Homo sapiens: one gene and its partner. The protein of the gene in region 1 purifies or fractionates together with the protein of each later gene. This does not show direct contact. Each region holds a gene or a part of one and is shown on either strand. Other genes may lie near its edges.

Evidence for each region.
Region 2: the proteins of RGN (region 1) and WDR1 fractionate together in Homo sapiens (co-fractionation; one large-scale study listed by BioGRID). This does not show direct contact.

The regions. Positions count from the first base shown.
Region 1 is NC_000023.11:47,081,395-47,085,213, forward strand, and holds part of RGN (regucalcin), read left to right. Parts: intron 1-3,023; coding exon 3,024-3,206; intron 3,207-3,819. UniProt on the Homo sapiens protein: Gluconolactonase with low activity towards other sugar lactones, including gulonolactone and galactonolactone. Can also hydrolyze diisopropyl phosphorofluoridate and phenylacetate (in vitro). Calcium-binding protein.
Region 2 is NC_000004.12:10,076,223-10,079,021, reverse strand, and holds part of WDR1 (WD repeat-containing protein 1), read left to right. Parts: intron 1-20; coding exon 21-131; intron 132-329; exon of another isoform or gene 330-411; intron 412-1,095; coding exon 1,096-1,269; intron 1,270-1,573; coding exon 1,574-1,718; intron 1,719-2,799.

The DNA of each region.
Region 1 (3,819 bases):
CTGACTACACTTGTCACGCTGTCTGTCCCCACTCCATATCCTCCCACTTTGACCCAGGGTTTAATTATGGATGGTCAATACTTTCCTCTTCCTCTTTGAATGAGGGGCAACATTCCTAGTTTTTTTTTGGGGGGGGGGGTGTTTTTGTTTATTTTTTGTTTTGTTTTTGTTGAGACAGGGTCTCACCGTGTTGCCCTGGCTGGAGTGCCATGGTGTGATCACGGCTCACTGCAGCCTTGATCTCCTGGGGCTCAAGGGATCCTCCTGCCTCAGCCTCCCTAGTAGCTGTGACTACAGGTGCGTGCCACTATGTCCAGCTAGTTTGTATTTTTTGTAGAGATGGTGTTTCACCATGTTGCCCAGGCTAGTCTCAAACTCCTGGGCTCAAGAGATCCACCCACTTCGACCTCCCAAAGTGTTGGGATTACAAGCGTGAGCTACCACGCCCAGCCCATTCCCAGTTTTGTTTGGATGCTGGGGCACTCTAGTTCCTGTCTTTCCTTAATACCTTCAGATAACCATGGAAAGTTAAAGACCCAGTTATCTGCCTTGGGTCAGGCCAAGACCTTAATTTTCAAACAAAACAAAACAAAACAAAAACAGGTGCCTCTCTTCCTTGAAAGTGAAAACTAGCTTTTGGATGTATAAAGCATCAACCAGGACCGTCTTTGTTTACTGCACAAAATAGAATTCATGATGGAATTTCATGTGCATTTGAGTGTGATGCGTTTATGGCCCTGCGAATTCTAAAGAAGGGATTTATCACTTTCTATGGCCCAAGGGAATAGGCTTAATGTAATTACTGATAGAGAAAGAAGTTTCTTGTTTTCACTGAGCCCATGGGAAAAAATATCAGGAATTCCTATAATCTTGGGACATTCTTTCTCAACCCAGAACTGGGACCTCAACTTTTTTTTTTTTTTTTTTTTTTTTTGAGACAAGGTCTGGCTCTGCCACCCAGGCTGGAGTGCAATAATGCAAACATGGCTTACTACAGCCTCAATCTCCCAGGCTCAAGCGATCCTCCCACCTTAGCTTCCTGAGTAGCTGGAACCACAGGCATGTGCCACCACACCTAGCTAATTTTTATTTATTTTTTGTAGAGACAGGGTCTCCCTATATTGCCCAGGCTGGTCTTGAACTCTTGGGCTCAAGCAATCCTCCTGCCTTGGCCTCCCAAAGTGCTGAGATTACAGGTGTGGGCCACCACGCCCAGCCTTAAACTTCTTTATTTTTAAATGAAAGGGAACAAATTTTTAATTCACCCAGAAGTATGACTGTGGTAAAGTGACTGTGACCTCTGAGGGTAGAATGGGGATGGGGTCCCCTTGCCTTTTCTAGTCTCTTTTGCAGCAGACACACATGCCAACCTGTGATCTGAAAAGCCCGCCCCCACCACCACCCGCCCCCAACCCATGGAAAAAGCTGTGGTGTCAGCAGTAGCTTAGAGAGCTACCAAGAGAAGTCTCAGGCTGCAGGTTGGGATCCCCAATGAGAGTGTGTCCTACACATTCCTTGGGACCCTTGATGGCTCCAATCAAAGTGTGAGCAGGGCTTTGAGCTAAGGGTGGCTCCTGAAGCTCCCATTATCTTACACTGAAGGGGTGCTTAGGAAATGCTTTCAAAATCTATTCTGATAAATTTATTTCCTGTGACCATTCACCACAGCAATCAATCTCTCCACTTAAAAAAATAAAATAAATTTAAAAAAAAAGCTTTCTTGGCCGGGTGCAGTAGCTCATGCCTGTAATCTCAACACTTTTGGGAGGCTGAGGTGGGTGGATCACTTGAGGCCAGGAGTTCAAGACCAGCCTGACCATCATGGTGAAACCGTGTCTCTACTAAAAATACAAAAATTAGCCAGGCATGGTAGCACAGCCTGTAGTCCCAGCTACTAGGGAGGCTGAGGCAGGAGAATCCTTTGAACCTGGGAGGCGGAGGTTGCAGTGAGTCAAGATCACGACACTGCACTCCAGCCTGGGCAACAGAGCAAGACTCCATCTCAAAAAAAAAAAAAGTTTTCTTATACATGGAAAAATATTAAATGAAGAAAACCTAAAATTTAAAAACATAAAATGTAGTAATATAATGAAGAGATGTGATTGTACTATCTCTGCATCTACATTCCTATCTGTTTATTATTTTTTACCATGCTTACTTCCAAAAAAGGATCTGAGAAACAATTTGCAATTAAATACATATAAAATAGGGCCCCTTAGAAAAGACGAATCCTGGGCCTGGCGTGGTGGCTCACGCCTAATATCCCAACACTTTGTGAGGCCAAGGCGGGTGGATCACCTGAGGTCAGGAGTTCGAAATCAGCCTGGCCAACATGGTGAAACCCCATCTCTACTAAAAATACAAATAAAAATTAGCTAGGCGTGGTGCATGCCTGTAATCCCAGCTACTCAGGAGGCTGAGGCAGGAGAATTGCTTGAACCCAGGAGGCAGAGGTTGCAGTGAGTTGAGATTGCACCATTGCACTCCAGCCTGGGAAACAAGAGCAAAACTCTGTCTCAAACAAAACAAACAAAAAAAAAAATGCAAATCCTGGATTGGAGAGGGAGAGAGATGTCACAAAACCTAGTTGCTGTAAATAAACTCGGTTTGTGTCTCTGAATTTTCTGGAGCATTTTCTGGCAAAATGGGGCATCACTCGCTCTGTGATGACTGTCCTGGTGCCCCTAGATTAGAAACTCCTCCTCTGAACTGGATGTGGCACCTGCCCCATATCATGGCCACTGGGCTTTCACTTCTCTGCTTTTCCCACAAGACTGGGAGCTTCCAGAGGAGTTGGGTTTTTTTCACATTTCTATCTATTGCTGCCCAGATCAGCACACAAAATTCATACTCAACAAATGTACTAGGTTACATAGCCTTCCCTACTCAACAGAAGGAAGAGAGCGCTCCCATTGTCACGAGAGCTGGGCTCCCGCTCTAAGAGATGCCAGGTAGCACAGTGATCTCAGTGGCCTCAGCCACTAAACTGGTACTGTTTTTTAACTGTTGCTTTACCTCTACAGATGCCCCAGTCAGCTCCGTGGCTCTTCGCCAGTCGGGAGGCTATGTTGCCACCATTGGAACAAAGTTCTGTGCTTTGAACTGGAAAGAACAATCAGCAGTTGTCTTGGCCACGGTGGATAACGACAAGAAAAACAATCGCTTCAATGATGGGAAGGTGGATCCCGCCGGGAGGTACTTTGCTGGTAAGATTTCTCTTAACACCTACTTATTACTGAGCCTTGGAGGAAATACTTTGACATACAAAGTTCTCACTACTGACCAGGGTGGTGGCTCCCGCCTGTAATCCAGCACTTTGGGAGCCAAGGCGAGTAGGTCGCATGAGCCCAGGAGTTCGATAACTGCCTGGGCAACATAGTGAAACCCTGTCTCTACCAAAAATACAAAAAATTAGCTGGGCCTGGTGGCATGCATCTGTGTTCCCAGCTACTCAGGAGGCTGAGTTGGAAGGATCATCTGAGCCCAGGAGTTTGAGGCTGCAGTGAGCCAAGATCGTGCCACTGCACTCTAACCTGGGTGACAGAGTGAGACCCGGTCTCGAAAAAAGAAAGAAAGAAAGTAAGTAAGTTAGTTAGTTCTCACTACCTCAAAAGTGTTATTTATAATGAATCTTGGGTTCTTCTTTTATTATTGCCTGAGTAAGTTGTAGGACAAAAAAAAAATTCTATGATAAAATCTTCATTTGCATTTCCATCTCTAGCAGAGACTAAAATCTGTATGGTATTTTGGTGGTTTAAATGAGTTTTAAATACAGGGGTTTTGTTGTTGATGTTTAAATCAGAAATATTTTCAAATTTA
Region 2 (2,799 bases), on another chromosome or scaffold:
GCTGCCTGTGTGTGCCACAGATTGTCCTGCTGAAGGATCAGAGGAAGTGCTTCAGCATCGACAACCCCGGCTACGAGCCCGAAGTTGTGGCAGTGCACCCCGGCGGGGACACGGTGGCAATTGGGGGTGTGGTAAGTCGCTTTCCTCTCCCCCGTGCTCTCTGTCCTTGGTATCTGGGTGATTTGGGGACAGTGTGAGCTGTGTGAGTACCGGGGCTGTCTCAGGGAAGGCGAGGGGTCAGGGGAAGGATGGGGGCAGTCGGGGCGTGGGACCTGCTCTGGGGCCCAGCCACGCCATCTCCTGCCACCCAGGGCTGGAGCCTTCCCCTCCCCTCCTCGGCACTTCCCCCACCTCACTGCCCGGGTGCCCACAAGACTGTGGACAGTGAGGTAGAGGGAGTGCCGAGGAGGGCACAGCTGTGCCTCAGAGCCAGCCCCATGAGTGGCGGCAGGAGGGGAGCGCAAGAGGGTAGCAGGTCAGGAAATCAAGGAATGGCATCCCCTGGGGCTGGGCTCGGCTCACAGGTTGAAGGAAGAGTGACAGAAGTTTCCCAGCATCTTCAAGGTGCGGTACTAACCAGACATTTTACAGTTTCCCTTGAGTTCTGCCTCGGCATAATTCTCATGCCCTTGAATTTGTGTGTGTGGTCTGGTCACAGTGTGCCTGGCCAAGTCCTGAGTGCTCTGTAGAAGAGCTCATTTCCCCTCTCCAGCCCAGGAGGGCAGCCCTCTGATAACCCAGTCCTGCAGCAGGCGTGGCAGTGCCCTCCATGCTAGGGGCTGGGTGGGTCTATGTGCTGCCAGGTCCTTCAGGTGCCGGATGTGACCAGGGCATGGAGTGGCTTCCTCCACCAGCCAGCTTGAGGGCCTCATGAGACCAGCGGTGCCCCGAGGTACCAACAGCTGTTTTCATAGAGCTGCGTAGGTTTCAGGCCCATCCACGGGAAGAGCCATGCCCAGCTCCTGGCATGGGCCCAGCAGAGCAGCAGTCAGTGGGAACGGCACAGTTTCTTAAGCCCTCGACCCCCCCTTCACAAAGGATGGGTGTGGTGTGTGTGTTCAGGGGTGGCTCACTTCCTCTCTGTCCCTGCCGTAGGACGGCAACGTCCGCCTGTATTCCATCCTGGGCACCACGCTGAAGGATGAGGGCAAGCTCCTAGAGGCCAAGGGCCCCGTGACCGACGTGGCCTACTCCCACGACGGCGCCTTCCTCGCGGTGTGCGACGCCAGCAAGGTGGTCACAGTGTTCAGCGTTGCTGACGGCTACTCGGTGAGTGGCGGCGGGCTCCTCCTCTGTCCCCGTGCTGGGCGGTGCAGGTGGCAGTGGGAGGTTATCTGTGACTTGGTGACCTTGAGCTGAGCCTGTCTGAGCTGTAGTTTTCTTGCCTCTACAAGTAGCAGGTGCCTCGTGCCATGCTTCTGAGGAGTCAGTGGGTTTGCAGGGGTCGCTGGCATAGAGTTAGCGCGTGAGAAACCTCGGTCCTTATTGTCGCCATGAGGGATAAGCGAGGTGATATGGGCAACTGCGGCCTGAACCTGACCTGCCACCTCTCTTGTTTTCAACCTGCAACTAGGAGAACAATGTTTTTTATGGACACCATGCAAAAATCGTCTGCCTGGCCTGGTCCCCAGACAATGAACACTTTGCCTCCGGTGGCATGGACATGATGGTGTATGTTTGGACCCTGAGTGACCCGGAAACCAGAGTCAAGATCCAAGGTGACTTCCGCCCCCAGGCCTTGGCAGGGACCACCCATGGTTCGGGGCTCCATGGGCCACCTCACAGGCTGTCCCCTGGCTTCAGTCCCCAGGGCTAAGTAGCCTCTGTGCTTCTAGACAGGTGGCCCGGAAGAGTTGTGGGTCTCCTTCCATCCAGCAAACACCAGCTGCGCTGCTGGCCGTACTGAGGGACCACGGGGGCCCCATGCACAGGACACCTGCTGAGCTGAGTGAAGGCCTCACTTTTGACATCTTCACTTCCCCCACTCACCCCTTAAATCCCACCTGGGACCAGGGTCTCCCCCTCCCTAAGACAGCCACGTCCAGTGTATAATGTGAGCCTCATGTGGCGTTGAAATTTCCTGGTAGCCACATTTAAAAAAGAAACAGGTGAAATGATTTGTAACAGTAGGTTTTATTTAGCCCCGCATGTCATCATTTCTCCCTGAGGGGGTTGTGATGTCCCCGCGTGGCCATGCACGTATTGTAAGGCAGCTCTGTGTTGTCCAAACCCTCCCCTCCCCGAGTGCCCCCCTACCACTCTCCTCCTAGTGTGTAGTCAAGTCCCCTCATCCATTCTCCTTGAAGACATCCTTTTGTGTTAAACATTAATGGGGCCCTTTCCTATTTAAAAATGTCTGAGCCCACCCCCAGAGCCCATTCCCCAGCTGCAGGCTTCAGGTGCAGGACAGGCAAAGAGGGAAGGCAGCCCGGTCTGGAAGGGAGGAGAGACAAAGCAGGTTTCAACGTCCGTCCTGGTTTATAAGGCAATCGCCAGTCTGGTAGTGAGAATCAAACAAGTTCATGAATGAAATGGATCCAGAAAAAAATACAGCAAGAGCTAGTCAGATAGAGATTAGGAGGTCGGGGTCTGTGTCTTCACTGTGAGGTCACAGGCCACCAAACATGAAGTGACCTCAGCATCGGGTTCTCGTGCAGATAGTTGAGTTCTGCATCTGGAAAAGAGCCAGCCTGGTGATGTGGACAGAGTGCTAAAGCCTGGCCTCACAGCCAAGTCATGCTTGGTGGTTGAAGGCGCTCCTGGGCACCTGTGCCACCCGCAGGCCAAGGCTTCCTTCAT